5 separate regions of the Homo sapiens genome follow, and regions 2, 3, 4 and 5 are each linked to region 1. The links come from fine-mapping of genetic effects on gene expression. A gene starts in region 1. Each other region holds a variant in brackets. All regions are shown on one strand. Distances are between the middles of the regions.

Evidence for each region. PIP is the estimated chance that this variant, and not a neighbour inherited with it, causes the effect.
Region 2: its variant is fine-mapped to the expression of LRCH4 in whole blood (TOPMed, PIP above 0.99). The same link has a PIP of 0.9 or more in monocytes.
Region 3: its variant is fine-mapped to the expression of LRCH4 in whole blood (TOPMed, PIP above 0.99).
Region 4: its variant is fine-mapped to the expression of LRCH4 in whole blood (TOPMed, PIP above 0.99).
Region 5: its variant is fine-mapped to the expression of LRCH4 in whole blood (TOPMed, PIP 0.94).

What each region holds. Positions count from the first base shown.
Region 1 is chr7:100,583,224-100,589,143 of GRCh38, forward strand. LRCH4 (leucine rich repeats and calponin homology domain containing 4) reads right to left here and starts at 2,906. Exons shown (of 18, transcript NM_002319.5): 1 at 2,658-2,906. The coding sequence starts at 2,877. FBXO24 (F-box protein 24) reads left to right here and starts at 3,105. Exons shown (of 10, transcript NM_033506.3): 1 at 3,105-3,441. The coding sequence starts at 3,403. RefSeq lists enhancers at 381-1,069, 523-817, 790-949, 1,215-1,728, 1,729-2,242 and silencers at 2,384-2,433, 2,474-2,903, 3,664-3,783.
Region 2 is chr7:100,304,875-100,310,794 of GRCh38, forward strand. It overlaps SPDYE3 (speedy/RINGO cell cycle regulator family member E3), which reads left to right and starts at 2,828. Exons shown (of 11, transcript NM_001004351.5): 1 at 2,828-3,117; 2 at 4,100-4,318; 3 at 5,486-5,704. The coding sequence starts at 3,012. The variant G/A (reference allele first, on the strand shown) is at 2,961.
Region 3 is chr7:99,858,300-99,864,219 of GRCh38, forward strand. CYP3A43 (cytochrome P450 family 3 subfamily A member 43) reads left to right here. Exons shown (of 13, transcript NM_057095.3): 10 at 1,531-1,691; 11 at 3,314-3,540; 12 at 5,238-5,400. Among named protein-coding and RNA genes, the nearest start is that of OR2AE1, 16 kb to the right of the region's middle. RefSeq lists a silencer at 1,973-2,173. The variant A/T (reference allele first, on the strand shown) is at 2,625.
Region 4 is chr7:100,646,850-100,652,769 of GRCh38, forward strand. ACTL6B (actin like 6B) reads right to left here. Exons shown (of 14, transcript NM_016188.5): 5 at 3,189-3,286; 6 at 1,880-1,974; 7 at 1,707-1,813; 8 at 595-684; 9 at 374-435; 10 at 122-236. Among named protein-coding and RNA genes, the nearest start is that of ACTL6B, 6.6 kb to the right of the region's middle. RefSeq lists enhancers at 2,474-3,020, 3,021-3,565. The variant T/C (reference allele first, on the strand shown) is at 3,314.
Region 5 is chr7:100,550,102-100,556,021 of GRCh38, forward strand. It overlaps AGFG2 (ArfGAP with FG repeats 2), which reads left to right. Exons shown (of 12, transcript NM_006076.5): 3 at 295-410; 4 at 3,246-3,399; 5 at 3,992-4,157; 6 at 5,509-5,634. Among named protein-coding and RNA genes, the nearest start is that of AGFG2, 14 kb to the left of the region's middle. The variant G/A (reference allele first, on the strand shown) is at 2,960.

The sequences.
Region 1 (5,920 bases):
TACTGACACAGACTTCAAGAGATCAGCAACTGTGTGAGCATCTCAGGCACGGCGAGGGTGGAGAGTGTGGGAGGGCCTGGGGTCTACAATCGCCCTCTTATCTGGAGCACTGCCTTGCTATGCGGAGGCTGGCAGCCTTGGGATTCCCTGTAGCACGGACCCACTAACGGCTTAGACCTGGAGAAGCCTGCCTTTCTGTTTCCTCGGCCCAGCCTGTCCTGGGAGGGGCCCAGGGCCCGCGAGGCGGAGTCCCAGGCCACAGACCTGGTGAGCTTCTCCAAGGGCCCTTCTCAGGGAAGGGCAGGCCAGCAAAAGCAAGCAGAGGAGAGAAGCCGGGTATATCCCCCAAGGAAATGAGTCTTGTGACAGGAAATGAAGTAGAAACAATCTGTCAGGTTCTGGCTCTGGTAGGCCCCGTGTTTACCAGGGTGGATGACAGCCTGATGCCCCGGGACCCCTTTCTCTTCCTCTCTGCCCAGCCCTGGTGCACAGACAGAAGCCCTGGCCTCAGAGATGACCGTTCTGGAGAGGGTGGGGGGATGGCATTTGCCCCTCCCAGCCTCGCCTCCACCTGCCCGCTTTCTCTGCAAATGTGTTTGTGTGTGTGCATGTGGACGAAGGGGGTGGAGACCGAGTTCTCAGAGTTCTGATGGGGTAGGCGGTGGCGGGGACAAAAGCTAGGAGCGGAAGGGAGCTCAGGCAGGAGGCAGGGCACTGGGGGCACAGGATGTGGTCTGGGAGAGAATGAGCTGCACTTCTCCTTTGCAAGATGGCCCCTCCCCGCCACCTCAGGATTCTTCCTACTATCACCCCAGGGAGCCTAGTCCAAGGGAGATCAGGGACCCAAGACTAGGCGACACGCAGCGAAGACACTCAGAAAGAGATGGGAGACGGGAGGGGAAGGCTCAAGGCAGTCCGGGCAGCAAGGCACTGATGCTTTTCGTCTGCTTGGAGGGCGAGGAGAGATGGAGGGCAGGGTATGGGCAACTGTATGTTTTTGTCACTTCCCCTTTCTGTCCCTGCTTGCGGAGAGGGGACAGAGGAGAGAATTCTGGACAAGAGGGACCCCACTTGGCCTAGAACCTGGGCCCTGTGTAGAGAGTGGGGCAGAGGAGGGTTCTTGGGAAGCTGGGATTTCCGACCCCCCCCCAAGCTCACAGGAGCACGGCTGCACCCTGAGCCGGAATGCTGGGGGAGGAGGGGGCCGGGGGCGGGAGCTGGGAGGGGCCGGGGAGCTCCGGGTAGTTTTCCCCAAGAGTCCACACAGGGAGAGACAGCCTAAGGAAGTAAAGAATAACATTTGGTCTTTGTCAAAAAACAACCAAGGGGGAGGGGAAGGGAACAGACAGTGAGTGTCACACAGCTGCTGAGGTCAATCTGGAGTGTGGGGTTAGGTGGGGGTGGGAGGGAACAGGGCTGTAAGGGGCAGGAATGGCTCCTGGAGCTCACTCATTCCCCATCTCAAGTGTTGCAGAGCAGGCGAGATCAGTGGGGAGGTTTCGACTGGTTCTCCCCAGAAGAGGGAAGAGGATGTGTGCCAGTGCCGGCCTGAGTGTTCCCAGGTGAGCAGGCACCTGCTTAGGGAGAAGTAAGCACTATCCTCCAGCTCTGGTCCCCCACCGTGCAGATGAGAGGAGGAAGAGGCCTGGGCTGGGGTGAGGCTTCGGGAATGCAGTCCTCCTCCCTGATCCTGATCCCCACCCCCAGCTGCCGGCCCAAGGTCATAGGCTGCCTCCTGAGTAGCTGAGGCTTGACTCACCTGTCACAGTTAAGTCCCCCACCCCCTACCATCCACAGACACCAGGGTGGAGGGTGCATGGTTGGACAGATCCTGCGGGTGGAGGCGTGGAAGGACAGTCTCTAGCTGGCCAGCACTCCCAGCTAGGAGATAAGATTTCCTTCCCTCCAGCAACGGCCTCAAGTCCCTCCCCCGGGGGAAAGCAGAAACTGAAATGGGAATTCTAAGATCCCTATGAGGTCACAGGCTCCACAGTGACCTCACAGGCTTAGGAAGGAGGAGGAGGAATCTCAGATAAGCCGGTTGGGGATAATAGGCGGAAGAGCTCAGGGAGAAAAGAGTGAGGGGAGGTAGAGATTTGTTTCTTTCCCATAGGCTGGAGAGCTGCGTGGACAGTGGAGAGGGCCAGGACCTTAGGGGGCGGGGTTGCGGCACAGAAAGCAGAAACCTCGGGCTTAGGGGCCAGTCACTGGGAAGGGGGTGCCCGGGGCTGCTCGGATCTCGGTGGGACGGGGGTTAAGAGGTGTAGATGAAGAGGGAGAGAAAGCAGTTATTAGAGGAGCTCGTGGGGACTGCTTCATAGACCGATTGGAGCTGAGGTTAAGAGATCATGTAAATAAGCCAACCAGGTGAGGGGCGGGACCATCCTACAGGTGCGCAGATATGCAAATAAAGAGAAAGGAGGAATCTCTCCCAACGCTCGGAGGCGCAGGGCGTTCTGTGCAAACGAGAAGCACGTTCATTGTCTAGGGGGTTCTCAAAGATGGGAGAGGATGGCTGCAGGTTTAGGGCAATCAGGAGGGGCAGCAACCCTGGCCGCCAGGTGAAGGGGCGGGCCCGACTCCCGGGCCGGGCGGGGCCCGGGGTGGGGCTATGCAAATGAGGGACCCGGTTGGGCCCGGGGCCCGGCTGCACTCACCAGCCTGGGTGATGTCTGACAGGTCGTAGCTACGGGCCGCGCCCCGGGGGAAGTGCTTCAAGCGCCGGTTAGACAGGTTCAGGGTCCCGGTGGCCACGGCCTCCTCTAGGGCCCGCTCTGCACTGCGTCTCCCCGGCAGACCTGGAGACCCGGGCACGGAGGTCGTGGCTGCCGCCTCCTCACCCCCGGCGGCGAGTGGAGCCGCTACGGCCGCCGCCATCCGCTCCCGGCGGCTCCCGCTGCCTGACTGACGGGACCGGCCGTCCCTCCTTCCCCCACCCCCTCCTTGGAGCCGCCGTAGTTGCCTCAAGGGGGAGGGAGCGGTGTCCGGGACCGGACGGACCAATCGTGGCCCCGAGACGCGTCAGAAGCGGCCAATCAGAACCCGTCAGTGGGGGTGGAGCTCCGGCGCCGGAGTCTGACGAGAGAAGGGAGGGGAACAAGGATAGAGCGCTCGCCAACGGCCGACGCTCCAGGCCGTCCCGCCCAGCGCAGCTGCACCCAATCACAATGCTCAGATCGGGAGGTGGAGCCAATCAGGTCCAACCAAGAGGAGGGGACACCGGCACTCCACTAGCAGGAAAACGGGCCGAGGGACCGCAAGCAGGGGGTGCCTAGTCCTCGTCCCCCAAAGACCAATCGTAAGCCAGATACAGGCGAGTGACTGTCAAGAAGGCCAATTAGAGCCTCCGAAGGGAATCTGGACCTGCCTCTTCTCTGAGGGACGGCTCTACCTACCAATAGCATGGGCGAGAAGGCGGTCCCTTTGCTAAGGAGGAGGCGGGTGAGCTAGAACTTTAAGACTGAGGTTAAGAATGAACGCGGAGCCCCTGGCCGGCCGGGAACGCAGTTCGCCGCTGCAGTGGCGAGTGCGAGCTGGACGTGTTAGGGGGCTAGCCGGCGTCCAGGGCTTGAGGGGATTCGGGCGACTGCTTGAGGCCAGTGCACTGGCGGTTGTCGCAGCTGAAGGGGCAGCGGGGGGACCTCCGACTGTGAAGCCTCTGGCAGGGGTCTCGGGACCCCCGGGCTGGGGGCGGGCGGGGGGCTTCCCAGAGCCTGGAGATGCCCAGCTCGAGGAGGGAGGGTGTAGGTGCAGCGTTGCACGGTCTGCCGTCTCACCCGAGGAGCTCCCCTGGACAGGAATGGAGAGGGGACCAGACCACGGGGTTTTAGAGGCTTAGAAAGGATCTCACCGCCTAGAACACGCCCTTGGTGCTACGAATGCAGAAACTGAGGCAGAGGGAAGTTGATGCGTTAGCAAGAGCGAACAGCAAGTTCCTGACAGCTGGCTTGCTCTAGAAACCAGGTCTCTGGATCCTCCACGCACAGCCCTTTCCCGCTCCCTCAGTTTTCACAGTGGATGTTTTCACTCCCTTCCTCTCTTCCTCCCTCCCTCCCTCTCCCTTCCGTTCCCTTCCTCTTTTTATTTTTTTATTTTTTGAGATGGAGTCTCGCTCAGTCGCCCAGGCTGGAGTGCAGTGGCGCGATCTCGGCTCACAGCAACCTCCACTGTCCGGGTTCAAGCAATTCTCCTGCCTCAGCCTCCCGAGTAGCTGGGACTACAGGCGCCCGCCACCACACCCGGCTAATTTTTTGTATTTTAGTAGAGACGGGGTTTCACCGTGTTGCCCAGGCTGGTCGCAAACTCAGGAGCTCAGGCAATATGCCCTCCTCGGCCTCCCAAAGTGCTGGCATTACAGGCGTGAGCCACCGCGCCCGGCCTTTTTTTTTTTTTTTTTAAGAAGGTCTGATTCTGTCGCCCAGGCTGGAGTGCAGTGGTGCAGTCATGGCTCACTGCAGCCTTGAATGCCTGGGCTCAAGTGATCCTCCTGCCTCAGCCTCCCAAGTAGCTGGGACCACGGGCGGCACCACTGCACCTGGCTAATTTATTTTCAATTTTTGTAGAGATGGGGTTTTGCTATGTTGCCCAGGCTGGTCTCAAACTTTTGACCTCAAGCGATCCTGCCTCTGCCTCCCAAAGTACTGGGATCACAGGCGTGAGCCACCGCACCCGGCCCACAGTGGACTTTTTCTTTCTTTTGAGACAGAGTCGCTCTGTTGCCCAGGCTGGAGTGCAGTGGCTTGATCGCAGCTCACTGCAGCCTCAACCTCCCACCTCAGCCTCCCGAGTAACTGGGACTACAAGCACGCACCACCATGCCAGCTAATTGTATTTTTTGTAGAGACAGGGTCCTACTATGTTGCCCAGGCTGATCTCAAACTCCTGGGCTCAAGCAATGCTCCCACCTCGGCCTCCCGAAGTGCTGGGATTATAAGCGTGAGCCACAAAGCCTGGCCCACAGTGGACTTTTTCTATTCACAACCTCTCGTTTGCCTCCTGGGGTGAAATGGAGTGGATAAAGGGGACCCAAATGCAAGAGGAATGGAAAATACCTTTCTGTCTACTTGGAGATCTTCCTTTCTAAGTGGCATGAGTCCCTAATGCAGTCCCCTCCCTATGTGGTAGGTTGCCCAGAAATAAGTCACTGAAGTTGCTTTCTCCTTAGTTCACATCTCAGAGGTTGATATTCCTGAGTAGTTGCTGAAGAATTAAAATTCCATCTCAGGCATCCCAGCCTAGCCATGGCTAGGCACCATACATAAGGGAATTTGGGTGGTCAGTCTGGTGCAGTCAATGAACGGATCTGTGACACTGTGTGGTGAGGGCTGGTGGTCTGGCAGGATGGGACTCCTTTGAGCCCCTGCAAGAGCCAGCCACTCCTTGGATTTATTGGTGTAGATCTGGCCTGAGTGGGACAGACACAACCCTGACCCCTGCTGTTTCTCCTGATAAATGTCACCCCACATAAGACAAAGCTAATATCAGAGACCCTGGGAGAAATCCTAAGCTTTCAGAGGAAATCCATCCCTTTCTCCCACCTTAATAGGTTGTCCTTTATACATGCAATGATGTTACTGTCCCTCAGGAAAGCAAAAGCAGTCTTCTTTTTTGTTTGTTTTTTTTGAAACTGGGTATCATTCTCGCCCGGGCTGGAGTGCAGTGGCACGATCATAGCTCACTGCTGCCTCAAACTGGGCTCAAGCAATCCTCCTGCCTCAGCCTCCTGTGTAGCTGGGACTACAGGGGTGCATCACCACGCCTGGGTAATTTTTAAGTTTTTTTTTTTTTTTAATAGACGCAGGGTCTATGTTGACCAGGCTGGTCTTGAAACCCATGGCCTCAAGCCATCCTTGCACCATGGCCACCCAAAAGTGCTGGGATTTCGGGCGTTAGCCACCGGCACCAGGCTGCAGTCTCCTTT
Region 2 (5,920 bases), 280 kb before region 1:
CAAGGCCCAGATCATATTTCACCACGCTCAGAAAACCTTGTCAGCTCATTTCAGTCCACGGTGACTTTGCTTTCTTTAGGATCTCTCTTGCACTGTCCAACTCAGAGAATTTCAAATCTGAATGGATTCCAATGATGGAGCTAAATCAGGCCTCACCTCAGTTTTTTAATTACAATCAATAGGGCTGGGTCCCAGCATCTGTGTCTTAATGTTCCTCCATGTGATCCTCATGCTGAAAGGCTGGTATTTGAAAATCCCTTTTTTTGGGGAGTGAAGGGTTTTTTTTAGAGACAGGCCTCACTCTGATGCCCAGCCTGGAATGCAGTGGTAGATCACAGCTCACTGCAGCCTCGAACTCCTGGCCGCAAGAAATCCTCCCACCTTAGCCAACCAAAGTGTTGGGATTGCAGGAGTGACCACTGTGTCCAGCCAGGAAAGCCCTTCTGTTTCACTTGAATGATATTTCTGCCGCAGACCTACAGCCATTGTTGTATTAAACGGCATCATTGCAGGAAAAGAAAAGGTGAGAGGTGACTGTTTTGCTTTTTTCTGAACATATCAGACCAAACCTGGGCTGTCTGGCACTTTTTTTTTTTTTTTGAGTCGGAGTCTCACTCTGTCGCCCAGGCTGGAGTGTAGTGTCGTGATCTCGGCTCACTGGAACCTCCACCATCCCGGTTCAAGTGATTCTCCTGCCTCAGCCCCGCAAGTAGCTGGAATTACAGAAGTGCACTCCCACACCCAGCTCATTGTTTCTGTATTTTTACAGAAAAACAGACAGGTTTCACCATGTTGGCCAGGCTGATCTCAACCTCCTCACCTCTGGTTATCTGTCGGCATCGGCTTCCAAAAGTGCTGGGATTACAAGTGTGAGCCACCGCGCCTGGTTTGCCCATTTTTTGACAATGTATCAACATCATCTAAGATGGGCACTGCCTCAGTGTAGTGTGTCTAGACAAGGTGGCCGGAACAGAGAGGAATATGCATACCAGGCTTAAAGACGGGTTAAATCAGAGCTTTTCATTCCACAAAAGAGCAATTTTAATGAGGTCAGAACATGGATGTTCTAATATTTGAAAGCCTGTTAACTAGGAGAGAGAGAGAGTAAAGTGATTTGTTGTAGGAGGACACACCCAGCTCTGACGGTTTAAAGCGTCATGAATGCAAATTTGAACTCCAGAAAAGCAGAGCTTCCTAACAATGGGACTTCCACAGCAATGGGATTTCCTTCCACATTCAGTTTGTGCCTTTCCCATGAGCGAGAGACTCCTAGGAGAGCCGCAGCCCGTTAGGAAGCCATGTGGGAACTCATCCACAGGTTCTTTTTGTTTGTTTTTTTTTTTTTTTTGAGATGTAGTTTTGCTCTTGTTGCCCAGGCTGGAGTGCAATGGTGCGACCTTGGCTCACTGCAACCTCCGCCTCCCAAGTTTAAGCCATTCTGCTGCCCCCGCCTCCTGAGTGGCTGGGATTACAGGCACCCACCACCATGCCTGACTAATTTTTTGTATTTTTAGAAGAGATGGGGTTTCACCATGTTGGCCAGGCTGCTCTTAAACTCCTGACCTCAAGCGATCCACCTGCTATGGCCTCCCAAAGCGCTGGGATTACAGGCGTGAGCCACTGTGCCTGGCCGGAACCCACAGGTTCTTTGGATGGTCTCTGAATGTCATGAAACTCTTTTATATTTAATTAAAAAAATTTTTTTGACACAAGGTCTTGCTGTGTTGCCCAGACTGGAGTGCGGTGTCACGATCACAGCTCACTGCAGCCCCTAACTCCTAGGCTCAAGCAATCCTCCTGCCACCTCAGTCTCTCAAGTTGTTGGAACACAGGTGCCAGCCACGACACCTGGCTAATTTTGTTCTGTTTTGTTTTGTTTTGTTTGAGATGGGGTCTTGCTATGTTGCCTACACTGGTCTTGAACTGCTGGCCTCAGGCAGTCTTCCTCCCTTGGCCACCCAAAGAGATGGGATTGCAAGCATGAGCCACTGTGCACAGCTGAGATTTTTCGACTTAGTCTTTTTGTACACCCAGTATCTTATAGAATATCCATAATATAGATTCATAAATAAACCATTTCCTTCAATAGTATAAATAAATAAACCACTGCTATAAATGGTGGAATTTCTGAGTTAAGAGCAATACATATGATACAAAACTTGATATATAGAGTTTCTTAGCCAAACTGGAGGGGCTGGCTTTAGGTGATCCGTGGACTCCCTGAAACTGGGGACACCATTGGAAATATGTGTGAGCTCATGGGCAGTTTCCGATGATTTCCAGTCCTCAAAATATCTCTTGGACTCAAAGATGCCTTAGGGCAGAGGACACGTTACACCCAGTACAGAATCTCGGACAGTGAATATCAGTAAACATTCGGCAGAAAAGCTCTGCCAAATTGAGTGCTCTGATGTGACTTTTTCATCAAGTCAATGTTCCTGGGATCTCTTGTACATGATACTCTCACTCTTATAAGGTTTCATCGTTTCTGCTTACCCTAGTTTTCTTTCCCATCCTGATCCCTCTCCCACCAGACTGGACTCTGAAACGGGCATGTACAGAGAAGAGGAGACCCCAACACGCTTCAAGCTTTGAGTGGAGAGGACACAGCCTCTGCTGGGACAGGGAACAGAGGGATGCGGAGACCCTGAAGATGCTTTTGGACAGTGGTCTGAGGTTGGGACAGTGGCAGGAGATACCATTCACCCAGGATCTCCAGGACAAGAGATCAGCCTGGCAGTTACATGTGTTTTTGTTCAAACTGGTTGCCAGGTTGGAATGACCTATGACATCAGAGATTCCGACCTTCCTGATTGGAAGGACCGGACTCTGTCGGCGCCTGGCAGTTCAGGTGAACAACAGTAACTTCTCAGAGCTGTTCTCCACTCCTGACTTCTCCCAGCCTCGAGAATTGATAACACACTCTTCTGGATCCCAGCAGTGTCCAGAAGAAGACCAAG[G/A]ACAGAACAGAGACTAGCTTCGGTGAGATTGGACAGATTTTGGGAAAGATCATGACGAGCCATCAACCGCAGCCCCAGGAAGAGCAGAGCCCCCAGCGGAGCACCTCAGGGTACCCCCTCCAGGAGGTGGTGGATGATGAAGTGTCGGGACCATCAGGTGAGGGGACTGGAGGAAGAAGAGGTGGCATAGGATTGACTAAGACGAAGGAAGGGGGCCAGGTGCGGTAGCTCACCCCTGTAACACCAACACTTTGGGAGGCCGAGGCGGGCAGATCACCTGAGGTCAGCAGTTCAAGACCAGCCTGGCCAACATGGTGAAACCCCATCTCTACTAAAAGTACAAAAATTAGCCAGGCGGTAGTGGTGTGTGCCTATAATCCCAGCTACTCGGGAGGCTGAGACAGGAGAATCGCTTGAGCCTGGGAGGAAGAGGGTGCAGTGAGCCGAGATCGTGCTACTGCACTCCAGTCTGGGTGAGAGAGTGAGACGCTGTCTCAAAAAAAAAAAAAAAAAAAGAAGAAGAAAAAAAAGAAGGGTCAGAGGTCAGGAAGGAGAACCTGGGGAGGGTGTGTGGGAAGAATGGAGAAATTCAGGCTGGGTGCAGTGGCTCACACCTGTAATCCCAGCACTTTGGGAAGCCAAGGCAGGCGGATCACGTGAGGCCAAGAGTTTGAGACCAGCCTGGCCAACATGGCGAAACCCCGTCTCTACTAAAAGTACAAAATTGAGCTGGGCATTATGGCAGGCACCTGTAATCCCAGCTACCTGAGAGGCTGAGGCAGGAGAATAACTGGAATCCGGGAGATGGATGTTGCAGTGAGCTGAGATTGTACCACTACACTCCAGCCTGGGTGACAAAGCAAGATTCTGTCTCGAAACAAAAAAAAAAAAAGAGGGCCTCAGAGAGCCAGGGACCAGGGAACGATATGACGCAGTGTTCTGAGGACAGAGAGAGGGAAGAATGGGGAGGGGAAGGAGTGGCACATGGGGTTGAGCAGAGGAGAAAGTCAGAAAGGTGGCTTGGAGAAGCCAGCAGTCTGAGAGGCTGGGGAGGATGGAGAATGGTTTGGGGTTTGGGGTCGGGGTCTAACGTGATCAGTTGCAGAAGCATTACACGGTGGCCTGGTTTCTTTACTCAGCCCCTGGGGTAGATCCCAGCCCCCCACGTAGGTCCCTTGGCTGCAAAAGGAAGAGGGAGTGTTTGGATGAATCTGATGATGAGCCAGAGAAGGAGCTCGCCCCTGAGCCTGAGGAGACCTGGGTGGCGGAGACGCTGTGTGGCCTCAAGATGAAGGCGAAGCGACGGCGAGTGTCGCTCGTGCTCCCTGAGTACTACGAGGCCTTCAACAGGCTGCTTGGTAGGAGGACACCCCAGAGAGCACCTCCAATCCTGTTCTTTCTAAAAAGAGGAAACTTCCAATAACCACACTTTTCCAATGGGAAAAATATGCCCCAGTGGGTGAGCTCTCCATGCGGGAGGACTCTGAAGTGATCACTCATGAGGGACACTTAGGAGACAACAGAGGATTAGGTAGACTTGATAAAGGTCGGTGCTTGGGATAAGAAAGCTTGGTTTTGGGCCAGGCGCTGTGGCTCCCGCCTGAGATCCCAGCACGTTGGGAGGCTGAGGCAAGAGGATTGCTTGAACTCAGGACTTCGAGGCTGCAGTGAGCTATGACTGCACCACTGCACTCCAGCCTGAGTGACAGAGCAAAACTCTGCGTCAAAAGAAAAACCAAGGCTGGGCACAGTAGCTCATGCCTGTAGTTCCAGCTACTCGGGAGGCTGAGACAGGAGAATCGCTTGAGCCTGGGAGGAAGAGGGTGCAGTGAGCCGAGATCGTGCTACTGCACTCCAGTCTGGGTGAGAGAGTGAGACGCTGTCTCAAAAAAAAAAAAAAAAAAGAAGAAAAAAAAGAAGGGTCAGAGGTCAGGAAGGAGAACCTGGGGAGGGTGTGTGGGAAGAATGGAGAAATTCAGGCTGGGTGCAGTGGCTCACACCTGTAATCCCAGCACTTTGGGAAGCCAAGGCAGGTGGATCACGTGAGGCCAGGAGTTTGAGACCAGCCTGGCCAACATGGTGAAACCCCCGTCTCTACTAAAAGTACAAAATTGAGCTGGGCATTATGGCAGGCACCTGTAATCCCAGCTACCTGAGAGGCTGAGGCAGGAGAATAACTGGAATCCGGGAGATAGATGTTGCAGTCAGCTGAGATTGCACCACTACACTCCAGCCTGGGTGACAAAGCAAGATTCTGTCTCGAAACAGAAAAAAAAAAGAGGGCCTCAGAGAGCCAGGGACCAGGGAACGATATGACGCAGTGTTCTGAGGACAGAGAGAGGGAAGAATGGGGAGGGGAAGGAGTGGCACATGGGGTTGAGCAGAGGAGAAAGTCAGAAAGGTGGCTTGGAGAAGCCAGCAGTCTGAGAGGCTGGGGAGGATGGAGAGTGGTTTGGGGTTTGGGGTCGGGGTCTAACGTGATCAGTTGCAGAAGCATTACACGGTGGCCTGGTTTCTTTACTCAGCCCCTGGGGTAGATCCCAGCCCCCCACGTAGGTCCCTTGGCTGCAAAAGGAAGAGGGAGTGTTTGGATGAATCTGATGATGAGCCAGAGAAGGAGCTCGCCCCTGAGCCTGAGGAGACCTGGGTGGCGGAGACGCTGTGTGGCCTCAAGATGAAGGCGAAGCGACGGCGAGTGTCGCTCGTGCTCCCTGAGTACTACGAGGCCTTCAACAGGCTGCTTGGTAGGAGGACACCCCAGAGAGCACCTCCAATCCTGTTCTTTCTAAAAAGAGGAAACTTCCAATAACCACACTTTTCCAATGGGAAAAATATGCCCCAGTGGGTGAGCTCTCCATGCGGGAGGACTCTGAAGTGATCACTCATGAGGGACACTTAGGAGACAACAGAGGATTAGGTAGACTTGATAAAGGTCGGTGCTTGGGATAAGAAAGCTTGGT
Region 3 (5,920 bases), 720 kb before region 1:
TCTGTAGACCTTTCTCACACTCATCTTGTATTGTTTTCAGTTATGAAATACATGGTTGGAGTGGGCACCATATTTATTTTAGTACCCTAGGTCTCTAAAGTTCTTAATCCAGTCCTGATCAAACAGACCAATGGCTGACTGTGCTAAGCTTTTCTTGGGAGAAATATCAAGAGGGAGGCAAACCTGTAGTCATAAATGCTGTTCGGTGAGCATGAAGTGGAGCAGAGAGAATGGGCATGTACTAAGGAAGATGCTATTCGGGCCAGGATGGAATAGGCACTATGAATTCCACTCACTAGACCCTATTGTTTTTATATTTCATGTTGGCCAATGCCCATCTATACATGCATTCTTCCTGCTGTATTATTATTATTATTATTATTATTATTATTATTATTATTATTATTATTTGAGATGGAGTCTCACTCTGTCACCCAGGCTGGAGTGAAGTGGTCTGATCTTGGCTCACTGCAACCTCTGCCTCCCAGGTTCAAGCAATTCTCCTGCCTCAGCCTCCCGAGTAGCTGGGACTACAGGTGCCCACCACCACACCCAGTTGTGGGTTTTTTTGTAATTTTAGTAGAGATGGGGTTTCACCATGTTGGCCAGGCTGGTCTCAAAATCCTGACCTCAATGATCCTCCTGTGTCAGCCTCCCAAAGTGCTGGGATTACACGCTTGCACCACTGTGCCCAGCCTGTTTTATTAAAACCACTCATTGGACTACAGTCAATCACCTCACTTCTAGATTTTTGTCTCTGTAGCTTTCGTATATCCAGAGGTCATCCATTTTGAAGACTAGTGCCCTAGGAACTCTATTACTTGATGTCACTCAAAGATGTAATCCATGCTTCTCAAGCCATGCTGGGCTCACAAATTACCACATCTCATGAAAGTTCAGATTTTGATTCTGCAGTTTGAGGGTAGGGTTTGAGATTCTGCATTTCTGATAAGCTCCCAGATGCTGCTGGTGCTGCTGGTCCATGGACCACATTTTGAGTGGCAAGAGCCCAATATTCTTCCCTTGGGTTCCCGCAAACATGCTTAGAGAAAAGTTCCTTTATATTTCCCTAAAATCAAGCCTTAGTATTGCAAACTGTCTCATTGTTTGTCAAGCTATATTGTAGCTAGAGTAATTTAAATCTTCCCTGGGGAGAATGTTACTCCACGTTTACTTATAGATAAAGAACTTCTATGATTATCCAAGGGACATCCCTATAACACTGAGTATGTTAGACAGAAATGCTCTCTTTGAAAGTTACCCAGCTGTGCAGCTGGTGGGGATGGTATGATGAGGAGTGAATGGCCCACAATCGTGTAGACCCTGGAAAAAAAACTGGATTAAAGTGACTTTGCCTTATTCTGGCTCTGTAGGATACACATCAGAGTGAAGCCACCCGCAGTGTGACTCTGAATTGCTTTTCTATTTTTGCTCTTAGGGATTTGGGAGCTTCACTGGAATTTTGCTTCATCTAAACTGTGATGCTCTACACTAACCACTTTTCCTAAAATATATTTCCTCTCCTTTCAGCTCTGTCTGATCTGGAGCTTGTGGCCCAGTCAATTATCATCATTTTTGCTGCCTATGACACAACTAGCACCACTCTCCCCTTCATTATGTATGAACTGGCCACTCACCCTGATGTCCAGCAGAAACTGCAGGAGGAGATTGACGCAGTTTTACCCAATAAGGTAAGGGGATGATCCCCTGGAGAAGGAGGGAGAAGGTGAAGCCTCAGCAAGAATGCCTCCTCACCACTTGCCAGGACAATTTTTGCAAAAAGCGTAAGCATCAGTTCTTTCATTTACACTATGCAGAAAGGCTGTAAAGAGTAAAAACAAAGGGAGAATCGTAGGTAGTGGATGCTTCTTGCGTAAGTGTAAGATCTTTGTGAAACAGTGCTGGTCCTGCTGCATCCGTTGTCTGTTAGCAACATAACACCAAGTAAAAAATATCCAGAAATCTCAATGACAACTAAAAACAATCATTTATTGCTCACAAGTCTGGATAGTGAGCTCTGCTGATATTGGCTGGACTCGCTGTGGTCTGGCAGTGGTCTGATGGAACCTGGCCCTGGGTGCGCTGGGCAGGCTGACTCAGCTCTGCCTCACACCTCTCTCTGCTCCAGTCAAGTAGCTAGTGGTGAAGAAGCCAAGCTAGGACCCAGGGTGCCTGACGCCTGGGCCAAACATTTAACCTCTACAATATTACCTTCCAAATATAACACCAAATGCTAGCCACGTATTACCCACACTGTTTCCAGAATTCTGCCCAAATTGGAATTCTTTATGGTGTAACGAGATCTGGCCTTGGGGCTGGCCCTGGTTTGGCAGTGAGGTGAACACAAAGGAATGTTCATCTAAGTTCATAGTCCAGGCCTGAAGGAACAAGTGGGAAATTGTTCGAGAAAGACAGGATGGGGCTGCCCGGAGGGTTCCTATCCTGTTTACAACTCTCAGTAGCACTGAAATTGTGTGCCCTGTCCAGTTATAAAGTTCTTTTGTCATATTTGGGTTACAAAAGAACTAGTTTATCCCCAAACTATTTATAGGGTTTTTATATAACATAGTGTTACTCTCCACATTTTTTTTTTGCATGGAGTCTTGCTTCGTCGCCCAGGCTGG[A/T]CTGCAGTGGGGTGATCTCGGCTCACTGCTACCTCCGCCTCCAGGGTTCAAGTGATTCTCGTGCCTCAGCCACCTGAGTAGCTGGGATTACAGGCGTGCGCTACTATGCCCGGCTAATTTTTATAGTTTTAGTAGACACAGGGTTTCACCATGTTGGCCAGGCTGGTCTCAAACTCCTGACCTCAAGTGATCCACCCACCTTGGCCTCCCAAAGTGTTGGGATTATAGGCATGAGCCACCATGCCTGGCCTAAACAGGACTTTTCCATTTTAAATGCTTGTATGAAATAGAGGATTTGCTTTTTACATTTTCTTTTTCCTTGGTACAGATGCATAGCCTCTCTTTGGAAAGGTGACACTGGCTTTGGCATATTTTAGGTGATTCAAATGGCCATCGTCTATTAGTCATGTTTGTTCTCCCAAGAAAGAAAAAACACGAAATGGTAATGTCAAGGATTTCAGTCTCTGTGTAAGTGATTGTGCCAAATTCATAACTCCTCCACACATCTCAATGGGCCATCGAGCACATCACTGGGTATGGAGAATTATTAAAATAATTTATAAATGCAACAATCTTTTACCAGAATGAATTATTCTCTGGAGCTCCTAACACTTCAATAGTACTGCATGGACTAAGTTGAAAGTTAATTCCCAATCTCAATTTATCCAAATCTGTTTCTTTCTTCCCAGGCACCTGTCACCTACGATGCCCTGGTACAGATGGAGTACCTTGACATGGTGGTGAATGAAACGCTCAGATTATTCCCAGTTGTTAGTAGAGTTACGAGAGTCTGCAAGAAAGATATTGAAATCAATGGAGTGTTCATTCCCAAAGGGTTAGCAGTGATGGTTCCAATCTATGCTCTTCACCATGACCCAAAGTACTGGACAGAGCCTGAGAAGTTCTGCCCTGAAAGGTACAAGGCCCCTGGGAAAGGAGCCTTCCCTCAACCAGCCTGATTCAAGTATATTCTGCCTCTCTCGATGCACATGGCAATCATTTGAATATGTGCCTTTTCATTTTGGAAGTTTTTTATTACAAAATGATAACTGTTAAACTTTACAAACCATAGATTAAGAAACACCTTATAACAACCCTCATTAACTATGTAATGCCTGTCTTGTAGGCATTTTTCTATGCATAGACATTTTTAAAAACTAGTATACTATCACATTTTATTTGAGTTTGAACTGCTGCTTACTTCATTTCAAAGTAAACCATTACCTATCTACTATCTTACGTTACTACATATTTCTATATGCATAAGCTATAATTCATTTCACCATAATGTTATTTTGAGTATATAAGCTTGTTATTCATTTCAGTTTTTCTTTGCTGTGCCCTTTAGCTCTCTGAATTTAGCACCACGTTTAGGACATGTTTCCACATTCCTTTTTCTTTCAACATTGCTTGCTGTTTTCCGTAATGTAACTGTGAAAGTGCAGGCTGAGATCCTGAGACATCCTCATCCCTGATGGTTTAAGCCACTTCATTGAGGACAGAGGGAAGCAGAGGTTCTCCTGGTCCTGTTTGTGTCTGCAGTCCTGTGCCGGCTCCCTTGTACTCTCAGTTGTTGATGACTCTTCCAAAGCAAAGTCACCTGCTTTCTAGACTTCTCAGAAGTTCTTCCTTGGAAGTGTTGGGCATGATATTCTGGGAATTCAGAGCCAAGGTCAAGCTTTGGGCACAATTTGCACTCTGGAAATAGTTGATATTTTCCCATTTTGGAAAGGAAAATTTGGAATGAACTTTGTAGGGCACTGGCTGGTGAGGCCTGGGATCTAGACTTTTATTGGCCCCTAACTATAAACTTCCCAATGGCAGGGACCTTGTCTTGTTAGGCATGCTGTCTCTACTGCTGGCACAGACTCTGTACATAATACTTGTTGGAAGAGCAAGTCAGAATTGACCAATTTCTCTGTTTTCTGGAGTAGAGGACTTCTGTGTTTCCTCCATCTTGGCACTTCCACCTCCTGTGGCTGCACCAACACAAAATCAGAGACCACTCATTGTACTTCTCTTTGCATCATTCAGTCACCAAACAGATAGTAAGTGGTTACCGTGTGTCAGGAACTGGGCCAGGCAGTGAGAAATCCATATACTAAAAAAAGTCTGTTGTGAAGAATGTTTGACATACACATAACTATATTCTATAGACACCAGGCTATAGAACAGTATTAATGCATCCCCCTGTGTTCATCACCTGTCTCAGTAGTCAATGCTGCATGTCAGCTTCCCTGTCCACACACCACCACAATCCTCTCTGTGACTACAATGTTATCTTGAAGAAATAACCTGTAAATATTTCAGAATTTTCTCTAAAATATAAGTAGTCTTTTAAAAACACATAACCACAAGGGCATTATCACTTTCCTCCATCAAAATTTTTTCACAATATAATCAAATATTGAGGAATCAAATTTGAATAAACATGGGTTTAACCTTCAAAAATTGTATAGCCGGCCAGGTGTGGTGGCTAACACCTGTAATCCCAACACTTTGGGAGGCCAAGGAGGTCCTCGCCTCCCAAAAGCCACCACACCCTGCATAACGTGTAGTTTTAATAGTTTTTATGTTTCATTAACTAGTTTTTATGTACTACTGTGAAAGTAGGTTCAGTAAGAAGAACAAGGACAGCATAGATCTTTACAGATACATACCTTTTGGAGCTGGACCCCGAAACTGCATTGGCATGAGGTTTGCTCTCACAAACATAAAACTTGCTGTCATTAGAGCACTGCAGAACTTCTCCTTCAAACCTTGTAAAGAGACTCAGGTCAGTAAACTTTCTTATAAATAATGTTTATTGGGAGTTTTTTAAACTGAGAAGTCTACATTTTTTAAAAATTATTGTTCATTTTTCAATAATTTGCTCTGTAGGACAAAGAATCTAATTGGAGCTATCCATAATGCTTAAAGATGAATCACTTCTGGAGTTCAAAATCTGTGGCTTTGTAAAGACAGAACTATAAAGATCATCTAATGTCAATATAGATTAGCATGGTATAATTATGTTCAGTCTCTGTGAACTTGAGCAAATTTTAAATTCAGTTTCATGTCAACTGTAAAGATGAGGAAGTCTTTTGCACAATCATGAAGTGCAATGATTACTTTGTCAGGACTTTCGAATGGTGCTCTCCTCCACTAGAACTCACTAGAACTTGCAGAAGCTTTCTCATGACAGTGTTTCTCAACCACTAGCTGTACATTGGAATCACTGGGGAGCTTCAAAAATTCATGATGCCTGGATCATCTCACAAATTCTAAACTAATTTGCCCAGAGTTGTGGCTTTAAA
Region 4 (5,920 bases), 64 kb after region 1:
GGGGCTGTGGGCTCTCTCCCCCTTCCCCCCAGACCCCTGCAATCCTTCCCAGCCTCCCCCACGCCCCAGGATCCAGGGACTGCAGCCAGCACCCACCCCAGTCCTCGCCACACAGCCAAACCTTGACGTTCGAGGGATCAAACAGGCCCTCAGGGATGCGGAGTCGCTCGGCGCCGTAGTCTGTATTGTAGCCATTGGGCATCTCGTAGTGCACTGTGGGCATTTGTGCAGCCACCCTACCCAGAAGGGAGCAGGACTCTGCCTGGGGTGCTCAAGAAGGATCAGTGCGTGGGCAGCACCAGAGCCCCCCAGCCCACCCCAAGAGTGCCGGTTCTGCCCTCTCTCCCACCCCAAAGCCCTGAGCCACACTCACTGTTCATCGTAGGGGGAGTCTGAGACCTGCAGCACGGAGGCCTGGAAGTCCTGGATCACCTCCTGAAATCCCAGCGGAGGTGGTGAGGGCCTGCCTTCCCCGTGAGCAGCACCCCCTGCCCCGCTCCCCCTCCCTGCTCCCCCTCCCATGCGGGGCCTCTGTCCCGCCCCCGATTCATGGCAGGGGAGGGGGGTTTCAGGTGGCCCTCTCCAGAGGCTCACATTACACATGTAGTTATGCCAGGACTTGGAGACCTGGGGTAGCTTCTCCTTCTTCTTCCAGTTTGGGGGGGCACCCTCCCGGACAGGCTCCTGTGGGGGCACAGTGTAGGAACACCCTTTCCTAGCCCACCTGACCCCCACCCCCACCTTCCTGGCACTGTTCCCAGCTCTGCAGCTACCTGGCGCTGCAGGCTCTGCTGTGCTGCCTGCAAGAGGGGTTTCTCACCCTTCCCTGATGGAGAGGAGAGAGAATGGGGCATGCCTCTCTCTCCATGTGTGCCTTTCATGCGGTGGGTGCAGCTGATCTGGAGAACACCAGGAATACAGCAGTGACAGAACCTCAAGGGAATGGCCTCCTAGGGGGTCATGATCCATGTGAGGGCACGGAATGGAGCTAAGCACACAGTGTCACTTCATACTCACAGCACCCTGGCTACTGCCTACTGCCGTTCCACTTTACATAAGACAAACCTGAGGCCCAGGGAGCTTTGATATCATGCTGTTGGTCACACAGCTCTTTTTTTTTTTTTTTTTCAGATGGAGTCTCACTCGGTCGCCCAGGCTGGAGTGCAGTGGCGCGATCTCGGCTCACTGCAACCTCTGCCTCCGGGGTTCAGGTGATTCTCCAGTCTCAGCCTCCCAAGTAGCTGGGACTACAGGCATGCACCACCATGCTTGGCTAGTTCTTGCAGTTTTAGTAGAGACGTGGCTTCACCATGTTGCCCAGGCTGGTCTCGAAGTGAGCTCAAAGCGATCTGCCTGCCTCAGCCTCCCGAAGTGCTGGGATTACAGGTGTGAGCCACCATGCCTGACCGGTCCTGCAGCTCTTGCACGGCAGAGGCAGAACTTGAACCTGGGTCTATATTGGACCCTAGAACCCACCACACTGGCCCTCACACATCCTGCTGTCTGCCAGCTGGTTTCATGACCTCAGCATATCCCTCAGCCTGTCTGGATTTCGGATGCCTCGATTATAAAAGGAGGAACTGGAGCCAGGACCCACTGGGGAGCCTGCTGCTCTCTGCTCTGATATCTCATGTGTCAGAGGGTTGACGGCCATGGGGCGAGTGGCCAGGACTCTAGTGGCAGCTCCATGTCCCCAGAGGCCCCACCTTGGCTGCGATCATGTAAGGTGGGATGATGTCAATGGCCATCTCCTGGAACAGCTCCCGGCACTGCATGGAGATGAAGTCCCCTGCCAGAGGGGACTTGACGATGCCTAGAAGGAAGGCACTGTCAGGACCTGGTCCTCCTGGAGCACCCCCACCCCCTGCCGAAGCCCCACCTTGCTGCAGAACGTAGCCGTCATGTACTGGAATGGCCGTGGTGTGGGTGGCTCCACTGTCCAGCACGAGGCCAGTGGACCGCCCGTTTGCAAAGCTGGCATCGGATGGGTAAGTCAAAGAGACAGCAGCAGCAAGTGAGGGGCCTGGGCCCAGATCTTGTCTGGTCACTCTCTGCTCTACCGGGGTCCAGCCCATCCCCAGTCTGCAAATCTCTCCCCCTGGTGATGACTCATCTCCTGGAGAAAGGCTCTGAGACCCCAGTTACTTCTTTTTTTTTTTTTTTGAGATGGAGTCTTGCTGTCTCCCAGGCTGGAGTGCAGTGGCGCAATCTCAGCTCACTGCAAGCTCCGCCTCCCGGGTTCATGCCATTCTCCTGCCTCAGCCTCCCGAGTAGCTGGGACTACAGGTGCCTGCCACCACGCCCGGCCAATTTTTCGTATTTTTAGTAGAGATGGGATTTCACCGTGTTAGCCAGGATGGTCTCGATCTCCTGACCTCGTGATCTGCCCGCCTCGGCCTCCCAAAGTGCCGGGATTACAGGCATGAGCCACCACACCCGGCGACCCCAGTTACTTCTTTAGTTATTTTTTTTTTTTTGAAACTGAGTTTCGTTTTGTCGCCCAGGCTGGAATGCAATAGCTCACTGCAACCTCTGCCTCCTGGGTTCAAGAGATTCTCCTGCCTCAGCCTCCCAAGTAGCTGGGACTACAGGTGCCCACCACTATGCCTGGCTAATTTTTCCATTTTTAGTAGACACGGGCTTTTGCCATGTTGGCCGGACTGGTCTCTAACTCCTGACCTCAAGTGATCTGCCCGCCTTGGCCTCCCAAAATGCTGGGATTACAGGCGTGAGCCACCGCGCCTGGCCAGCCCCTTTATTTTTGGTTGTGTCCTACAGATTCCCTGAAATTAGGGTCGCTATCACCCCAGTGCATAGCACAGGGTTCAATGCAAGGCAGATCCTAAAAACAGTCAGTGTTGAAGGAGTTCTTGGGAAGGGACTGCCGCAGTGTTCTACACGTCTCCCTCCTCTGTCCAGTTCCAGCCCCTACTCTCTCCCGGGCCCAGCTCACTGTCTGCTCAGCCTGATCCGGGGAACCGAAAGGGGCCGCTGATCTGGCCACCCCAGAGTCGGAGGTGCTCAGTCCACTGGGCCTTCTGCACTAGTGGGGCAGAGGGAGGTGTCTGCCCATTGGGACACTGATCTTCAGAGAACCAGGCCTGACCCTCCAGCTCATCACAGCTGAGCTCAGCACAGGCCCCACCCCAGCCCTCCACCCAGTCAGAGCAGCTCAGTCCAGAGGATACGCGGTGAGCACAGCCGTCTTGCATAAGAAGAAGGCAGGAATGTTGTACTGCTCGAACATCAGCTCTGTCAGCTTCTCCCGCTTGGCCCGTGTGTTCCACTGTGGAGAAAGTGCAGAGGGGGAGGA[T/C]TCAGGAAGGGAGAGGCACAGACCCACATCCACGCACACGCAACCCACTCACTCACACATACACTCACGGTCACACACACACATCCAAACACTTGCACACACATACACAACCTAAACACTCACACATACACTCACGGTCATACACACATGCATTCACTTGCACACACACACACATACACTCAAACACACACACATACACTCACATTCACAGACACACATAAACACACACATGCATTCACACTATACATACACTCACGGTCACACATGCAAACACACTCACAAACACACGGTCAAACACATATATACTCACATTCACACACAAACTCACACACACACATACACATATATTCACACTCACAGTCACACACACATGCATTTAAAACATTTGCACAGGCCAGACAGGGTGGCTTACGCCTATAATCCCAGCACTTTGGGAGGCCGAGGCAGGAGGATTGCTTGAACCCAGGAGTTCGAAACTAGCCTGGACAACATAGTGAGATGCTGTCTCATTAAAAAAAAAATTTAAAGTAAGGAGCTTGTGGGAATTAAAACTACATGAACAGAAATGAAAAACTCAATAGAAGGATTGGAACATAAAGTGGAGGGAATATCTTGGAAACCAAAGGAAAAAGGTAAAGAGATGGAAAATATAAGAGAAAAGGGAATTAAATTAGGGGACCAATTCAGGGGGCAACAAAATCCAATAACAGAAAATCCCAAGAGAGAAAATGGAGAGAAATAAATAATTAAATAAATAATTCTTTTTCACTGAATTGAAAGACATATGTTTTCAGAATGAAGAGACATACTAAGTGCCTAGAGCCATGAATGAAAATACACCACACTGAGGATAAAGTAAAAATTCTATAAACTTTCAGAAAGAAAAACATTACATCAGAGGATCAGAAATCAGATGGTTTCATCCTTCTAAATGGCAACGATATATGCTGGAAGAAGGACAATGGAAAAGTGCCTTCAAGATTCTGAAGAATAATGATTTCTAACCTGGCATGGGATACCTAGCTAAGCTATCAACTCAAGGTGAGACACACAAAAGTCTCAAAAAATATACTTCCCATGACCTTATTTTAAATTTTTTTTTTAGATGCTGGGCGCGGTGGCTCATGCCTGTAATCCCAGCGCTTTGGGAGGCCAAGGCGGGCAGATCACCTGAGGTCAGGAGTTTGAGACCAGCCTGGCCAACATGGTGAAACCCCGTCTCTACTAAAAATACAAAAATTAGCCAGGTGTGATGGGAGGTGCCTGTAATCCCAGCTACTTGGGATGCTGAGGCAGGAGAATCCTTGAACCCGGGAAGCGGAGGTTGCAGTGAGCCAAGATCACGCCATTGCACTCCAGCCTGGGGGACAAGAGTGACACTTCATCTCAAAAAAAAAAAAAAGTTTTTTTTTAGATTATTATTTAATTAATTATTTTTTTAAATGGAGTCTCACTCTGTCGCCCAGGCTGGAGTTCAGTGGCATGATCTAGGCTGACTGCAATCTCTGCCTCCTGGGTACAAGCAATTCTCTTGCCTCAGCCTTCCGAGTAGCTGGTACTACAAGCATGCACCACCATGGCCAGCTAATTTTTATATTTTTGGTAGAGATAAGGTATCAGTATATTGCCCAGGCTGGTCTCAAACTCCTGGACTCAAGGCCTCCCAAAGTGCTGGGATTACAGGAGTGAGCCACTGTCTCTGGCCTCTCATGACCTTTCTAAGGCAGTTACTGAAGGACCTGCTCCATGAAAACAAAGGAATAAGTCAAGAAAAGGAGTCAAGTACAGGAAACAGGACTTCTAACCAGGACAGAGGCAAAAGGATTCTACAAGATGATGGTGAAGGAAGATGCCAGCATGACAGGTCTGTCCCCTGGCAGAGGGCTACTAGTGCAAACTGGACCAGGTCAGTGGGCTCCTGAAGAAATTTCTTCAAGAAATGAAATTGATGAGAGGCCAGGTGTGGTGGCTCACGCCTGTAATCCCAGCACTTTGGGAGGCCGAGGCCGGCGGATCGCGAGGTCAGGAGATGGAGACCATCCTGGCTAACACGGTGAAACCCCGCCTCTACTAAAAATACAAAAAATTAGCCGGGCGTGGTGGTGGGTGCCTATAGTCCCAGCTACTTGGGAGGCCGAGGCAGGAGAATGGTGTGAGTCCCAGCTACTTGGGAGGCTGAGGCAGGAGAAATGGAGCTTTCAGTGAGCCGAGATCGCACCACTGCACTCCAGCCTGGGCAACAGAGTGAGACTCCATCTCAAAAAAAAAAAAAAAAATACAAAAAATTAGTCGGATGTGGTGGTGGGCACCTGTAGTCCCAGCTACTCGGGAGGCTGAGGCAGGAGAACCCAGGAGGTGGAGCTTGCAGTGAGCCGAGATCGCGCCATGGCACTCCAGCCTGGGCAACAGAGCAAGACTATGTCTCAAAAAAAAAAAAAAAAAGAAATTGATAAAATATCTAATGGAATTGACGTCTTGACAAAAGATACAATTGATGAATGATTTAGGGTTCACACTGTTAAGTAGATAGAAAACCAGACCAAATATAATCAAACACAGGGCTGGGATGGTGGCTTACGCCTGTAATCCCAGCACTTTGGGAGGCCA
Region 5 (5,920 bases), 33 kb before region 1:
ATCGAGGCCATCCTGGCCAACATGGTGAAACCTCATCTCTATTAAAAGTACAAAAATTAGCTGGGCGTGGTGGCGCATGCCTATAGTCTCAGCTACTTGGGAGACTGAGGCAGGAGAATTGCTTGAACCCCGGAGGTGGAGGTTGCAGTGAGCTGAGATCGTGCCACTGCACTCCAGCCCGGCGACAGAGCGAGACTCCGTCTCAAAAAAAAAAAAAAAAAAAAAAAAAGGAAGTGGTATTTTTTGTATTTCCTGCTTTCTGCTCCCACTCCTCTGACACCTTCATTCTTTTAGGTTTGCCGGAAGATTTGGTTGGGTCTGTTTGATGCTCGGACATCTTTAGTACCAGATTCCAGGGATCCTCAGAAAGTGAAGGAGTTTCTCCAGGAAAAATATGAGAAGAAGAGATGGTAAGGAGTAGGAAAGAGGTTGCTATGGAAACGTGTTCAAGACATTCTTCATCTGACAGTCCAGTTTCTAGAGTTGAATTTGGCCTTCTCACAAAAGACTAGACTTGGGTCGATTCTGTTCCACTCACATTCAGTTACGGCTAAAATAAATCTACATGAAAGGACAACTTGTTCTCAGTCACTAACCCTGCAGATTTTATGTCCTCTCTTTTGGAGAGATAGTAGACTGATTGGAGTCGGGAGGTAGGCCTGTGGGTGTTCATTTTTATAGCTCAGCTGATCTTATGTATGGGGAGAGATGGCTGGAAGCACACATCCTATAGTTTTATTCCTTTAACCCATCATTTTATGATTTTTTTTTTTTTTTGAGACAAGGTCTCACTCTGTTGCCCAGGCTAGAGTGCAGTGCCACAGTCACAGCTTACTGCAGTCTCAGCTTCTTGGAGCTCAGGTGATCCTCCTACCTCATCCTCCCCAGTAACTGGGACTACAGGTGTGTGCCACCATGCCTGGCTAATTTATATATATATATATATATATATATATATATATATATTTCTTTTTTTTTTTTTTTTTGAGACAGAGTCTCGCTCTGTCACCCAGGCTGGAGTGCAGTGGCGTGATCTCGGCTCACTCCAAGTTCCACCTCCCAGGTTCACGCCATTCTCCTGTCTCAGCCTCCCGAGTAGGTGGGACTACAGGCGCCCGCCACCACACCCAGCTAATTTTTTGTATTTTTAGTAGAGACGGAGTTTCACCGTGTTAGCCAGGATGGTCTCGATCTCCTGACCTCGTGATCCGCCCACCTTGGCTCCCAAAGTGCTGGGATTACAGGCGTGAGCCACTGCGCCCGGCCTTAATTTTTATATTTTTTGTAGAAATGAGGTTTCACCACGTTGCCCAGGCTGGTCTGAAACTCCTGGGCTCAAATGATCTGCCTGCCTTGGCCTCGCAAAGTGCTGGGATTACAGGCGTGAGCCACCGTGCCCGGCCTTGTTTCATGATTTATATGTACAGTCAGCCCTCTGTATCTGTAGATTCTGCAACCATGGATCCAATCAACCTCACATCAAAAATATTTGGGAAAATAGGCCAGGCAAGGTGGCTCACGCCTATAATCCCAGCACTTTGGGAGGCTGAGGTGGGCAGACCACTTGAGGTCAGGAGTTCGAGACTAGCCTGGCCAACATGGTGAAACCCCGTCCCTACTAAAAATACAAAAAAAATTAGCTGGGTGTGGGGGTGGACACTTGTAATCCCAGCTACTCTGGAGGCTGAGGCAGGAAAATTGCTTGAACCCAGGAGGCGGAGGTTGCAGTGAGCTGAGATCATGCCACTGTACTCCAGCCTGGGCAAAGAGAGAGAGACTGTCTCAAAAAAAAAAAAAAAAAAAAAAAAAAGTAGGGAACACAAAAAATAACAATACAACAATAAAAAATAATACAAATAAGGCCAGGTGTGGTGGCTCATGCCTGTAATCCCAGCACTTTGGGAGACCGAGGCGGGTGGATCACAGGGTCAGGACTAGTTCAAGACTAGCCTGGCCAAGATGGTGAAACCCCGTCTCTACTAAAAATACAAAAAATTAGCCAGGCATGGTCATGGGCACCTGTAATCCGAGCTACTCAGGAGGCTGAGGCAGAGAACTGCTTGAACCCGGGAGGCAGTGGTTGCAGTCAGCTGAGATCGTGCCACTGTACTCTAGCCTGGGTGACAGAGTGAAACTCCGTCTCAAAAAAAAAATAATAATACAAATAAAAAGCAATACAATATAGCAACTATTGCATGGCATTTACATTGTATTAGGTATTATAAGTAACCTAGAGATGATTTAAAGTATATTGGAGGATATACATATTTGATGCAAATACTTCACCATATTATATAAGAGACTTGAGTGTCCCGTCCTCTGATTATGGAATTGTCAGGGGGATCCTGGAACCAGTTCCCTGAGGATACCATGGGACAACTATATTTTGTCTTCCTGATGAAGGAAACAGCATCTCCATTCTCCCTTACCTTTCCTCTCCCCTGGTATCACTTCTTGTGGGATCTCTGGGGTGTGTACATGTTGGGAGGTAACTGTGAGGTAGAGAAGAGAATGCAGAGAACAAAGAGATTGATGTGGATAAGACCACACTGTGGAGTCCCTCCTAGGGATGTCCTCAGGATTAAGCTGACACTTACAGAGTAGGGGCCACATACACTGTAGTGGAAGGGAATTGTCCCGGCAGGAGCTGGCAGGATGGAAGTGTGGATTGTGAGCACCTAGAGGATGAGGCGGCAGGCAGCTTTTCTATGGAGCTGAGAAGAAGGAGTCTGAAGAAACACCCAGGAAATAAAAGAGGGGGACCTTTGCCAGGTGTGGTGGCTCATGCCTGTAATCCCAGAACTTTGGAGGCTAAGGCAGGAGGATCACCTGAGGCCAAGAGGTTGAGACCACCCTGGGCAACATAGTGAGACCTCTTCTCTACAAATAATTAAAAAATTAGCCAGGCATGGTAGCATGTACTTGTTTGTGGTCCCAGCTACTTGGGAGGCTGAGGCAG[G/A]AGAATCACTTGAGCCTAGGTAGTTAAGGCTGTGTTGAGCCAACATTGCCCCACTGCACTCCACCCTGGGCAACAGCGAGACCCTGTCTCAAAAAAACCAAAAGATGTTCAAGGGGATGCTCAAGATAGGCAGAACTTTGCTAAGTTGCTCGGTTCCCTTCAAAAAAGGGAATCAGTAGAGAAAAATGAGCATAGATTTTGACTCCTGTGTCTTCCCAAACATCTCAGCTGAGCGTGGTCCAAAGTTTTATCCCTCTCTTTACAGCCTAACTATTCTTTCTCAAAGGTATGTCCCCCCAGACCAAGTCAAGGGGCCCACTTATACCAAAGGCAGTGCCTCCACCCCTGTGCAGGGCTCCATCCCAGAAGGGAAGCCCCTTCGGACACTTCTGGGTGATCCTGCACCGTCTCTCTCAGTTGCTGCCTCCACCTCGAGCCAGGTAACTCTCAGATCTGCTCGTCATGTTTCTTTTGAGATTTGGGAGACAGGAGTGTCAGTTTCCTGAATCAGATTCCCCGGACTTAGCAGACAACAGTGCAGGAGCTGTGAGTTGGGTCTCGGCTCTGCTGTTAACCTGTATCTTGTATTTGTCACTTCTGGACCTCATATCTTTTGGAAGTCAGAACCTAACAGGAAGTGGTATTTAGGAAAGTCAGAATATCAGCTCCAAACCTGAGCATTCCATCAAAGAAACACAGAAGGGGCTGGAATATGGTGTCCAATACCTGGGAAGGTTGAGGAGTAACAGCCCTGGGGGCAGTATTGGGCAGTATTCCTGTATATCTCAGGGTTACCTTGGCTCATGTGCTGTAAAATGTGTGGTTCTTGGAGCAGGTGTACTGAGAAGATGAGGATGATATGAGCTCTGAGAGGGGCTAAGGCAGCTCCTGCCCAGGAATCTTCTAGGTTGAGGGCAGTTACTCACTGTCTTCTCTCTCTACCTGCCTATCTGAGGGCAACCTGGGGAGCCAGAGGAGGGCCTGGGGCATGTCTGGGATTCTAAGGGCTGTATGCATTCCTTCTCCTCCAAGCCCGTCAGTCAGTCTCACGCTCGGACATCCCAGGCCCGGAGCACTCAGCCACCTCCCCACTCCTCTGTCAAAAAAGCCAGTACTGACCTGCTGGCTGACATCGGTGGAGACCCCTTTGCTGCACCCCAGATGGCACCAGCTTTTGCTGCATTCCCTGCCTTTGGGGGTAAGTGGGTTTTGGGATGGGACCCTCCCTACAGCGTATATGCTTACAACATGAGAGATCCAGTCCCTGGAGGTAACCATGGCTCTAGATCTTCTCATGCAAACAAATGTGAGGGTCACTCTGAAGCAGTGAGGCTGGGAGGACTGGGGTCAAATAAGTACAGCCAGGATTATGTTTGGGGGTTTGATCCTAAAACATTATAGTTGAGGGCTCCTAGCACTTCCTTTTAGAACACTGGAAATAGCCTTTTTTATTATTTTCTGTCTCTGTTAAAATGGGAGGAGGGGGATTATCATGTGTTCCAGTTCACCAAAGATTATTCTTCCCCCAAATCAGCAATAGCCAGTAGAGGGTTCAGCAGCATAGAATCTGTTTTCCCTTTTTAAAAATTTTCAAGCCAGACACAGTGGCTCACACCTGTAATCCTAGCATTTGAGAGGCTGAGGTGGGCAGATCACCTGAGGTCAGGAGTTCAAGACCAGTCTGGCCAACATGGTGAAACCTCATCTCTACTAAAAAGAAAAAAAAAATTAGCCAAGTGTGGTGGCATGTGCCTGTAGTCCCAGCTACTTGGGAGGCTAAGGCAGGAGAATTGCTTGAACCTAGGAGGTGGAGGTTGCAGTGAATCACAATTGCATCACTGGACTCCAGCCTAGGTGACAGAGTGAGACTCCGTCTCAAAAAAAAAAAAAAAAAAAAAAAAATTCAAGCTCCTTCCTCCATGAAAAAAAATTTTCATGCTCCAAACTAGGCCCTGACAAAAATGTTAATGCCTCATGGAGTAAGGACAGAAGAGGGCAGGGAGTGAACCTGGAGGCCCTGGGTGCCCCTGTTCCCCTGTGTGGGTCTGGCTCTTGGCCCCAGGCCCCACCCATTTCCCTCTGAAGAGAACCCTGTGGAAAGGCAGATGTCCCATAAGAGTGGCCTTTGGCCTTTAGAATTAGTAGCTATATTACATGGATAGGCATATACATTTTCTTTTCTTTTTCTGTTGTGTGTGTGTGGTTTTTTTTTTTTTTTTTTTTTTTTTTTTGAGTCAGAGTCTCATTCTGTCACCCAGGCTAGAGTAGAGTGGCACAATCTCGGCTCACTGCTAGCTCCACCTCCCAGGTTTAAGCAATTCTCATGCCTCAGCCTCCAAGGTAGCTGGGATTACAGGCATGTACCACCACGCCCAGCTAATTTTTATATTTTTAGTAGAGACAGATTTCACCATGTTGACCAGGCTGGTCTTGAACTTCTGACCTCAAGTGATCTGCCCACCTCGGCCTCCCAAAGTGCTGGAATTACAGGCGTGAGCTACCACACCCGACAATTTTCTATATAACCTTTATGTTTCTTCCACCTACAGGCCAGACACCTTCCCAAGGAGGCTTTGCCAACTTTGATGCCTTTAGCAGTGGCCCCAGCTCTTCTGTGTTTGGAAGCCTCCCTCCAGCTGGTCAAGCCTCGTTCCAGGCCCAGCCAACTCCTGCAGGTAAACTCTGCCCCACTGGCTTCCTTTCTCTTCCAACCGTGTCCATTTGTTCATGTCTATAAATCACCATTCATATCCTCACTATCCTAAAGAACTGCTCAAAGCAGCAAAGCACAAAGAGAAGCAGCTCCAGGAGAGGATGAGCGTGTCTGACACATTCTTGTCAGGGAGAGGGGGCTCTACTGTTCTGCTTTTTCATGAAAGGAAAATGACTAAGATTGCAGCAGGAGCTGTGTGGGTTATACACTAGGAAACTTTTCACTAGGAAGTATGGAAGACCTGAGTC